2 linked regions of the Homo sapiens genome follow. The protein of the gene in region 1 binds, or shares a complex with, the protein of each later gene. Each region holds a gene or a part of one and is shown on either strand. Other genes may lie near its edges.

Region 1 (5,248 bases):
GGCAGGGCTGTGCCCCGTGAGGCTGCTCTCCGTGGGTGGGTGCCTGCTTTTCTCCTCGCTCCTTGGTGGCCTCCCCTGGGAAGCTGTTTGATTCCCTGCCGCTGCCCTGAGCTGACACTGCAGACGCGCCCGGGCACTGGCGAGGACTCCTGTTTTGTCCACAGATGCGGAGGTGGTGGAGAAGCCGGCCAAGGAGGAAACGGTGGTGGAGAACGCCACCCCGGACTACGCAGCCGGCCTGGTGTCCACGCAGGTAGGGCTCGGGGCTGCACCCCATGTCTGGCACCACTGCGGGTGCCCCTTTTGTTCCGATTGTGGCCACTAGTGTGCTCTGTCGGAGAATATATATATGTATGTACATATGTGTGCAGTCTGTATTTATGTATATATACGTATATGTACATGAGAGGCAGTGTGGGCCGTGCCCTGACATGGGCATCTGACTCAGGCTTGGAGCGGGAACCTGCCCCACGCTTGCTGGAGGGGCTGCCAGGGGAGTCCTCCTCAACCCTGTGCCTCAGTGTCCCGTCAGGCAGGGCTGGTGGGACCTAAGCCTTGCACGTGGCCGTGAATGGGTGCAGGACAGGCCTGTGGGGGTGCTGGGTGGTCAGAGGCCTCAGTGTCCCGGAGACCAGGCCCTGCCTGCGGGTGGGAGGCAGCCACGGGGCGCGGCAGGTGCACAGAGGCTGCAGTGGGTCGTCTGAGGCCAGGGCCTGGAGGAGGCCACACTGTGGGGTCACTTCAGGATAATAAGCTCCTTTCTTCCCGCCGCTGCGTGTTCTGTGTTTCTTAACATGAGCATCTTCCTTTATATCAACGCTTCGTGGTAAGAAAAAGCATCGCTCCTTCTGTGCTCAAGATGGGCTGTTTGGGCTCCTCAACCCCTCCCCTCTCCTACACAGGAGCGGCTCAGTCCCCAACTCTGCTGGGGCGCCAGGGGCCAGGGGTCCCGTTGTCTAGCCCAGGGAGCTCGGGAGAGTGGCCCCCGCCTTCCTGCTCTAGCTCGGGGGGCCACAGCCTGTGGCAGTGGAGCTCCGGGTCGGGCCATGTGTTAGCACATGCCGGAAGCATGGCCTCTTCTGGAAGGAACCTTAAACTCTGTGTTCCAGAAACTTGGGTCCCTGAACAATGAGCCTGCGCTGCCCTCCACGAGCTACCTTCCCTCCACGCCCAGCGTGGTTCCCGCCTCCTCCTACATCCCCAGCTCCGAGACGCCCCCAGGTGAGTCTGCTGGCCCCAGCCTGGAACCAGCCAAGCTGCCTGCCAGGACATGACCTTGCCCACGGGCGCTGCCAGGGCTGCGGTTCTCACTCCTGCATCTCTGTTGTCCCCCTTCTGCCTCAGCCAGAATCTGCTGGGGGCAGATGCCCCGCTGTTCAGCTTGAGCTCCAAGACATAAACCAGCTGCTTTGCCCCACCCTGCCCGTCCTGGGCACAGACAGGCAGCGGCCCCAGGGGACACGGCAGGAAGGGGATTGGGTTCGAAAGGGTTTTCTGCCAGGTGACCCAGCTCTTGTTGCTGGGTAGGCGGGAGGGGAGCTGAGAGCCATCCCCTCCCAGACGGAGGGCACTGCCAGGCTCACAGCACCTCAGGCCAGGTCCTGGGCCCAAGGGGCTTGAGGATACAGCCTTCCTGTCTTCCCAGCAGTGCCTACGGTATGGGGACCTGCTGCAGGCCAGCAGCTGGCCAGAGTCCAGACATCTTATCTGCGAGTCTGGAAAGGCCTGAGACCACTGGCCTTGTTCCTCTGGCTGGGGCTTCTGGGGCCTGTGCCTTGGCTGGGGGCCACAGGGAGTTCTTGTCAGAGGGTAGCAGGACAGAGAAGGGGAGCTGAGCCTGTCACCTCCAGGAGCACTAGGGTTTGGGAACAGGGTGGGGGTCCAGCCCCCTCACCAGGCCCCGGTCTACTTGCAGCCCCATCTTCCCGGGAAGCCAGCCGCCCACCAGAGGAGCCCAGCGCCCCGAGCCCCACGTTGCCAGCGCAGTTCAAGCAGCGGGCGCCCATGTACAACAGCGGCCTGAGCCCTGCCACACCCACGCCTGCGGCGCCCACCTCGCCTCTGACACCCACCACACCTCCGGCTGTCGCCCCTACCACTCAGACACCCCCGGTTGCCATGGTGGCCCCGCAGACCCAGGCCCCTGCTCAGCAGCAGCCTAAGAAGAACCTGTCCCTCACGGTAGGTGTACACTGGTAGGGCCCACAGGCCACCAGGTAGGTGGTACGGCCCTGGCCACCTCCCCTAGCGTGGGGGTGCCACGGTGCCTGCAGGGGGATGCAGGAGGTGGTCCTGGCGGGGCCCTGGCACCCACACCCCTCTCCCCGCTGTAGAGAGAGCAGATGTTCGCTGCCCAGGAGATGTTCAAGACGGCCAACAAAGTCACGCGGCCCGAGAAGGCCCTCATCCTGGGCTTCATGGCCGGCTCCCGAGGTATGTTCATAAGGCAGGGCCTGGGGGTGCACCGGGCCGGGTTGGGGGCGGGTGCCCCCAGACACCCACCCAGCAGCTCCTGCTCTCTGCAGAGAACCCGTGCCAGGAGCAGGGGGACGTGATCCAGATCAAGCTGAGCGAGCACACGGAGGACCTGCCCAAGGCGGACGGCCAGGGTAGCACAACCATGCTGGTGGACACAGTGTTTGAGATGAACTATGCCACGGGCCAGTGGACGCGCTTCAAGAAGTACAAGCCCATGACCAATGTGTCCTAGAACCACCTGCCTCACAGCTGGCCGTCACTTGTGGGGGTCCACGGGACGATGGCTTTGCCAGCTTAAAGTAACCGGATGGCGGACACCTGGCCCCCGAGGTCCCCCGGCCGCCGCCCTGCTGCTGACCCAGCCTGTTTTAAGTTCTGGATGCATTTCTCTGGGGTATTTGGGGCTTATTTTTAAAATTTTAATATGGGTTCTTTTTTGTGTGATTTAAGACACTTTTTGGACTCAACGTTACATTTTTGAATGTAGTAAGTAAATTAACCAAAAAAGTTACAACTTCCTAATTTTAGTGACAGCTCTGCCTGTTAGACTCTTACTTTTTAAAATCTTTTCTATTTTCCCTCGCTGGGGCAGTGCCCTCCTACCCCCAGGGTTGAGGGGACCAAGGTGGCACGGTGGTACTGGGGGTGCGGCAGGGACACCCGACCACACCAGAGCGTGGGAGACGGTGGGCCTTGTCCCCTGCCTGTGCCTGCCTGGGAGTTTTGTATTCATCTTTTGTATAGTTGTGGACATTTAAGACAGTCTTTGGGTACCTATTTTCATTGTAAAACTATCTGAACCATTAAAGTCGAGCTTTTCTAAAGAAAGCCACCATAGCTGTGTTTGGGGCCAGCTTGTCCTCCCTGCTCCGGGGACCCAGTCCCTCCCTAGGCGGCCATCAGGACGGGGTGGGCCAGGGCTGGGGGCTTCCTAGGACACCCTGGCCCACAGGGTGGGGAACAGGTAGGATCAGCCCTCGGGGTACTCCCTTGACTTACTTGGCTGTGGGCCTGGGGACCACCCGGCTCAGCCGACTGCAGGGCTGGGGGACAGCAGTGCTTCCTTCTCTCTAGACCATTTCACCCTTAATGGGAATTTGGGAAGCAAATTATTTCTGAAAGAAGAAGAAAGCATTTTTCCAAAGTCAGTCAGTTATGCCTGCTATTTCCAGTATTTGTTGTTATACTTCCCAAGGTGGCACTGCCTCTCCCCAGCGGGTCAGGTCAAAGGCAAAATGACACAGTCAGGACAGGGAGCCCCACCCATCGGAGGCATCAGTGCCACACCCGATGCTTTGCAATTCAAAGTAACTGGAAAAAAAATCAAACAATCCCATATAAAATAAGTTAAGAAAAAAGCCTTTAAAATGTTTTTAATACAAAAATACTCATACACAATTTTCCAAACACAGCTTTCCATTTTAAATGCTATTTTCCCCCAACTGGCAAGTCTCAACTCTCTATTTCAGTATATCCCTCCCCCCAAAAAGTGAATTTCAAGTTTTTAAGTCTAACTATCAAACCTGGTGACAGCACCCAGTATTCCTAAAAGGAATCTGACCTTACATTGTATGAAGTTTAGACACCAATAGGCACATTTAAGTTTGTATTTAATTTCTGACGGGGCATTTCACACCTCAACAGGGTATGGTGAGGCTGTGACACCCCGTGGACACAGCATTTTACTCTACTGACTAACAAACAGTCATCAACTACACTCATAGGATCAAGATATTTGGCAACTGACAGTCATTTGCATTAACTTGAATTATAAAACAGGTTTAATTCTGGAAAATAAGGTAGTCCTGGAAGATGGGCACTGCACACGCCGGGGTTTAGATGTCAAGACAGACAAACACTGCGAAGGGGACCCAGCCAGCCATGGACGGGTGTCGCCGGAAGAAAGGCCGGCCTGAGGACGGACAGCTGGGTTCTCACTTCAGGTGCCTGAAGAGTTTCCCCCACAGGTGACCACATTTTAAGCTGCCCATTCGGACACATCCCCCTGTGGGCGCACACGGGTGGGTATGGGTTTAGGTGCAGATGCTGGTTTCGGATGCCAAGGAATCCTGAGGGATTGGGGCGGTTTTTGTGTTTTGCTTCACATTAATGATGGAGGATTGAAGCTGATGTTCAGGAAGTCACCACGTCCTCAGAACAAAGCTGGGCAGGGCCGAGAGCCAGCCACACCCACGGTCACAGCTGGGGGCGTGGTCAGCCCCAGTGGCGAGAAACCCTGCAAGCTCAGGGCCGCTACCCCAAAGCCTGGCTCCACTGAGTTATCAACGGGTATTGTAGAGACATTCAAAGTTAGTGTTACTTGCTCATTAGTTTAACAGTTTTTGGAAAGGGGGAGAAACATATTTAAAATGTTTGCATTATTTCCTTCAGAAAAATCATAAAATTTGGAAGTATTATCAAAGCGATTAAAAATCACAAGATTTCACTACTGTCCAACACAAAAATAAGTTAATATCTGCTCCCCAAAGTGCACTGCAAAGCCGATTCTGCTGTTTTGACGTAAGCATTGGTAGTCCCTTACCTGCCGGAAGGGATCTTTTGGGCAAGTGACAGCGGGGCCCTGGGGCCTTCGACTCTAAGGTGTGTGTGGGGACACTGCCCGGCCTGTCCCTAGAACAACCTTCCAAGTTAGGGCATCATAAGGAGCATAAATCTATGAGCCGATCCAGTATTTTCTTAGGACACTTTGGGAGAAGTTAGAGTCTGAACTGGAAAGCACTACTCCCACCCTGTCTTAACCGGCGAGTGC
Region 2 (5,404 bases), on another chromosome or scaffold:
GGCCCTCATGTTAAACATTAACCAAGTGAAATGTTTCACAAAAGGTATTTCAGAACAGGGGTCATGGGAAAGCTGAGGGGCAGCTGAGTGGGCTGTCTGGATCCCCCAAGGCTGGCCTGAGAGATGGAGGCAGAAAGCAGGGGGCAGGGGGCTGACGGCAGCAAGGGGAGCGGGAGACGGCTGCAGATGGGCTGACGCGCGATCCCACTTCTCACAGGGCGAGAGAGGCTGGCTGAGGATCGTGACCAGCACCTATAAGGATGGGAAGGGCGCCAGATACAACCTTGCCATCGAGGAGCACTGTACATTTGGGGACCCCATCGTTTAAGGCCATGTCACTAGAAGCGCAGTTTAAGAAAAGGCATGGTGACCCATGACCAGAGGGGATCCTATGGTTATGTGTGCCAGGCTGGCTGGCAGGAACTGGGGTGGCTATCAATATTGGATGGCGAGGACAGCGTGGCACTGGCTGCGAGTGTTCCTGAGAGTTGAAAGTGGGATGACTTATGACACTTGCACAGCATGGCTCTGCCTCACAATGATGCAGTCAGCCACCTGGTGAAGAAGTGACCTGCGACACAGGAAACGATGGGACCTCAGTCTTCTTCAGCAGAGGACTTGATATTTTGTATTTGGCAACTGTGGGCAATAATATGGCATTTAAGAGGTGAAAGAGTTCAGACTTATCACCATTCTTATGTCACTTTAGAATCAAGGGTGGGGGAGGGAGGGAGGGAGTTGGCAGTTTCAAATCGCCCAAGTGATGAATAAAGTATCTGGCTCTGCACGAGACTGAGGCTGCCCGTGCCTTATTCGCACACAAAAACAATGTCACATCAGGACTTAATCCAACCCAGCAGAAAGGCTTTTTAAAAATTTACTTATTACTTGTTCTTAGCAAATTAAGACAATTACAATAAAACATCAGCTAACTGGGTTCTTGTGAGAAAACTGAGGTCAGCTTGGAAAGGAGTTCCCCGAGTGGAGTTCCCAGCGGCCCGCGGCTGACGGCCAGATCTGTCCTGAGGGGTCGTGGGAGCCCAGCGCCTGCCTTGAGGGAAATGAACACTGAAAACAGGATTTGGGAGCAGTATTGGATTGACAGCAGAGAAGGGACTGTTTGTAAGGGCAGTTTCTCACTGAAGCTGCTACCATTTTCCTTTGTAAAGAAGTCATCCACCTCCTCCCAGCGGTGCCCATTTTCAAGACGCTGCCCGAGCCTCTTAAAACAGCTTCTTGAAAGGGTTTTTCCACAACGGGTTCTGGAATGTTCTGCTTCAGCTCTGGAGGATGCTCTAAATTAGTTCACCATGATGAAGTTAGATTTGCAGTGAGCTTTAACGAGGAAAACAGTGACTGTGTTAGAAACAGGAAGTAGAACATGACATTTTCTTTCTTTTTTTTTTTTTTTTTTGAGATGCAGTTTTGCTCTTGTTGCCCAGGATAGAGTGCAATGGCGCGATCTTGGCTCACTGCAACCTCTGCCTCCCAGGTTAAGCGATTCTCCTGCCTCAGCCTCCCGAGTAGCTAGGATTACAGGCACGTGCCACCATGCCCAGCTAATGCTGTATTTTTAGTAGAGATGGGGTTTCTCCATGTTGGTCGGGCTGGTCTTGAACTCCCAACCTCAGGTGATCCACCCACCTTGGCCTCCCAAAGTGCTGGGATTACAGGCATGAGCCACCGCGCCCAGCTGACATTTTCTATTGTAGTAAAGGGCTAGGCAGTCGGCCTCACCTATAAACTCCGTCACAGGGTCATGCTCGCCTTCCGTTTTGATGGTACCTGCGATGCTGTCATTCTCCAGGATGGGGAGGAAAAGTTGCACGAAGTCAGAGGTATAAGGAGGAGCAATGACGTCCAGCACCTGCGTGGGGGAGCACAGGGTGACTTCTTCCGCACACTAGTGCGGGGCATCCACCGACATCCGGGTGAAATGGCCATCAGTTTGGAAAAAATCCCTCCCCACCCCCACCGGCCGGTGACACCACCCATCTCCAACATTCAGATGCCCAGGGTGGTAATGGAGGTAAAGTGTGTCATACAGCTGCTGCAGGCAGAAGGTGCTTTTTGGTAAACGAGTATCTGTCATTGTCATCACTACATCAGAAAGCACAGTTCTCAGTTAGGTACAAAATGAACTAAATTAAGCCAAAAAGGGCAGTGCTAGTGTAAACAGTATGAAACATGAAACCAACGGTGCATTGCTGACCTCAGTGACAAAATAGCGAATGAGTGAAATGTCAGTGTCCAGCTTCTCCAGACACTTTCGGATGTAACTGACAACAGGAAGTACATAACCTCGACTCAGCAGGTGAACCATCCTGTCCAGCAGTGTCTTCTTCAACTCAAGCTACAGAAGAAGGGGGACAGGGAGCTGGTTAGAGAGGGTCCTCCTCAGCCCTCTGGCAAGCCCCACGGGCACTGCTCACCTGCTCCATCACGTCCAGCTGGGAGTGCTCAGTCTCAAAAAGCTTAACAAGCAGCTGCAGGACCTGGGGGTGCAGGAGCTGGTGGCAGGTGCTGATCTACAAACAGGCCAGAGGGAGCTTCGCTGAGCAGTGTGGTCACGCTCAGCACACAGAGAAACTGGGCACTGTCACAGCCACCAAAGAGCTTATCACTGTGGAAGAAGGTCCTGACACCTAAGCCAGGGCCATCAGCTTCCAGTAACACTTGACTGAGGTTAAGAAATTTCTGCAGTCAATGAAGCTAGGTCCTTAAGAGGAAAATCCTCAGGACAGAAATAACTATTTTTGAGAAGAGTATCCTCTAAACTCACTGAATAGATGCAATGTTAATGCCAACGTAAACAGCATGAGACAGACACTGTGTAGGCTGTGAACAGCTCTCCGCCCTCTTACCTCATCCAGCAACGCCAGGTGGACAGGGGTATGGTCAGTCTGCAGCTGAAAGTACCTTGGTTCTGATACAGTCCAATCCACCCACTTCAGCACACCCATTGCTACCACTGGAAACCTACAGTTAAGGCAGAATGCTTCCTTTAAAAAACAATTTAAAACACAAAATATGCTAGAAAAGCATTAAAGGAAAGTTAAAAACAAACTCAAATGACTCCATCATTCACCCTTCAATACGCCCCCCAACCCTTTTTTTTTTTTTTTTTTGAGACAGGGTCTCACTCTGTCTTCCAGGCTGGAGTACAATGACACAATCATGGCTCACTGCAGCCTCCCGAGTACCTGGGACTACAGGTGAGTGCCACCATGTCTAGCTAATTTTTTGTAGAGAGAGGGTCCACCATGTTGCTCAGACTGGTCTCAAACTCCTGGGCTCAAACTATTTTCTTGCCTTGGCCTCCCAGATTGCTGGGATTCCAGGCCAGAGCCACTGTGCCTGGCGTAAGCTCTGCTTATTAGTAAATAGTGTGAATGGATCAGCAGCCACTCAACATGCGGTGCAAGAAGCAGAGTTCAATTCTCTGCTCACTTTAAACCACTTATCGAAAGGAAAAGATCATTAATGAGTGATACTCAGTGAGTTTGGTGGACTGGGTTGAAGTTTACCTTTATTTAGCAAACTCTTTCTTCATCCCTAGTATAAATTATTAGGGGAAAGACATGCCTAAGAGGACACACTATTTCTAGGACACGTCTATTTATATGATTGGCATAATCACAAATCATTTCTATGTAAGCAATACTTTGTGGGCATAACTTTACCTATAAATAGACCCTTCAAATCAATTTTTGTTAACTCTGGCTATCTTTTACTTAGCCTAATTTGTACTCAACAGACTTCTGGCAAATAAACATCTGAAAATTACTCATGCTGCTAAAGCTGTTTAAAGTTCCCTACATACTGTTTAAAAATGAAAAAATAAATAAAATGAACAAGTATCGCTGAAGCTTTTGTTATTTGAGCTTTCAATATGAAAACTCAAACGACCTCCTCCCCAAAGGACTGATTTAAGAACTGAGTTTCGTTTTGCTTACCTAATACACTGATAAAGTGTGCTCAATTCTGCCACTAGTTCAGAGGCCCCTTTGTTCTCGTTGCAACACAAATTGTGAACGGTTTCGACAGCTTTTGACGTTGACTTCAGCTCATCTTTATTGATGCTCACTCGCTTGTTCTGAAAACACACACACAAGCTGGTGAGCCTGACAGGGCAGATATCCCTGCTGTCGGGGTGTTCTGGTGTCGGCCACTTCTTGCAAAGCACTTTCCCTATTTCTACTTAAGTTGGGAGTCAATTCAGCTGTCAAACTTCACAGTCACACAGTGTACAGAAACTGAAAAGCAATGAGACTAGTGTTTGTCCATGTCTTACGGAAATCAGTTTCATTTCTTTAGTCACATTTCAATTTACGGTTTGCAGAGCATTGGAGACATTACGCACATTTTCTGGAGACGTTTAGTGCTTTCTCTACGCAGAAACACAAGAAAACACATGCCTGATACTAGGGAGGGTCAAGATTTCTTGCAGCCAAAATTCCAAAATAATATCAAAGCAGAGGAGGATATTTGTCTCCTAAAAAATCCACAAATTCCCAGAACCGATGGTACCTTCTTCCAGGTCTCAACCACGCTTGCTGCGTACGCCAAGATGTGGATGTATTTGTGCTTGTGGTCCTGGTTGATCCGAGCCCCTGGTTTAAAGAGTGACTGCATGAACAGGTCCAGGAAGGCTGGAACGCGGATCTGAGGAGAAGCATATGCCCAGTTCGGGATGGCAGGCGTGAGGGCACTGCTCACCCACCTCCCCTCAGGGTTCCCTACACAGCAGGGGCCCAACAGGCTCCAGGCAGAGAGTGTGACTGAGGAAGGACCAGGACAATGATGGATTTGCATTCACAGCCTTCAGACAATCAGACAAGCACAGACTTTCCAAAGTCACCTTACCAGCTGACATTGGGGATTCTTGAGAAGCAACTTACAAGTTCAACCGGAGGAGGGTCCATGCTTGTGAACATCTTGAACAGGACGGTGATGTCAGCAGGGTTCAGGGCTCCTTTGGACAGCATGGCCCCGAGAGCCTGGCAGGCCCTGGGGTAGGAGGCAGCTGTGCCCAAGGCTAGTGTGATCTGACTGGCGTCATGACCTCTTGATGAGAAAAACCATAGACCCCGTTACTAACAAGGCAGCTTCTTTTTTCTGTTCTTTTTTACACATATAATACTTTGCATTGTTGGGATCTGTTTTTCTGTCATTCACGAGTATACTGACTGACCCACAAAAATAACATTTACAACACTGGAAAAGTGATTCCAATACAGCTTGCTGGCTCTATAAGAAAGGAGTCACACACTTTAAATACTTAGGAACACTCTATTGGTAGCAGAAAATAAAGCTAATATGAGCTCATTTTGCGACACTGTAACAATGAGATTGCTGAGCAACTATTTCTGGACTGACTTTGTTTGTTACTTCAGAACCCCAG

The links. The genes of interacting proteins can lie anywhere in the genome.
Region 2: the proteins of NELFA (region 1) and NELFCD are in contact, whole or in part, in a crystal structure (PDB 5L3X), measured with the Homo sapiens proteins. Residues at the interface, in NP_005654.4 of Homo sapiens: Leu23, Trp24, Ala25, Leu54, Leu58, Leu61, His62, Arg65, Pro88, Trp89, Met92, Val93, Ile96, Leu97, Phe100, Gly104, Ser105, Leu106, Leu108, Leu110, Asn116, Val117, Asp119, Ile120, Leu121, Glu123, Leu124, Arg125, Lys127, Val128; in XP_047296144.1 of Homo sapiens: Cys204, Gln205, Gln206, Leu207, Glu208, Phe210, Ser211, Leu214, Arg215, Leu218, Ala219, Ile221, Leu222, Asp223, Gly225, Glu226, Cys241, His242, Gly243, Glu244, His245, Thr246, Tyr247, Leu248, Phe249, Ala252, Met253, Ser255, Val256, Leu257.

The regions. Positions count from the first base shown.
Region 1 is NC_000004.12:1,980,781-1,986,028, reverse strand, and holds the end of NELFA (negative elongation factor A), read left to right. Parts: intron 1-164; coding exon 165-253; intron 254-1,109; coding exon 1,110-1,221; intron 1,222-1,915; coding exon 1,916-2,181; intron 2,182-2,333; coding exon 2,334-2,433; intron 2,434-2,525; coding exon 2,526-2,710; 3' UTR 2,711-3,306; downstream 3,307-5,248. UniProt on the Homo sapiens protein: Essential component of the NELF complex, a complex that negatively regulates the elongation of transcription by RNA polymerase II.
Region 2 is NC_000020.11:58,990,573-58,995,976, reverse strand, and holds the end of NELFCD (negative elongation factor C/D), read right to left. Parts: intron 5,068-5,404; coding exon 4,902-5,067; intron 4,666-4,901; coding exon 4,531-4,665; intron 4,097-4,530; coding exon 3,957-4,096; intron 2,980-3,956; coding exon 2,865-2,979; intron 2,529-2,864; coding exon 2,433-2,528; intron 2,354-2,432; coding exon 2,213-2,353; intron 1,868-2,212; coding exon 1,738-1,867; intron 1,336-1,737; coding exon 1,301-1,335; 3' UTR 864-1,300; downstream 1-863. Other genes in the region: CTSZ (cathepsin Z preproprotein), read left to right, coding at 218-328. UniProt on the Homo sapiens protein: Essential component of the NELF complex, a complex that negatively regulates the elongation of transcription by RNA polymerase II.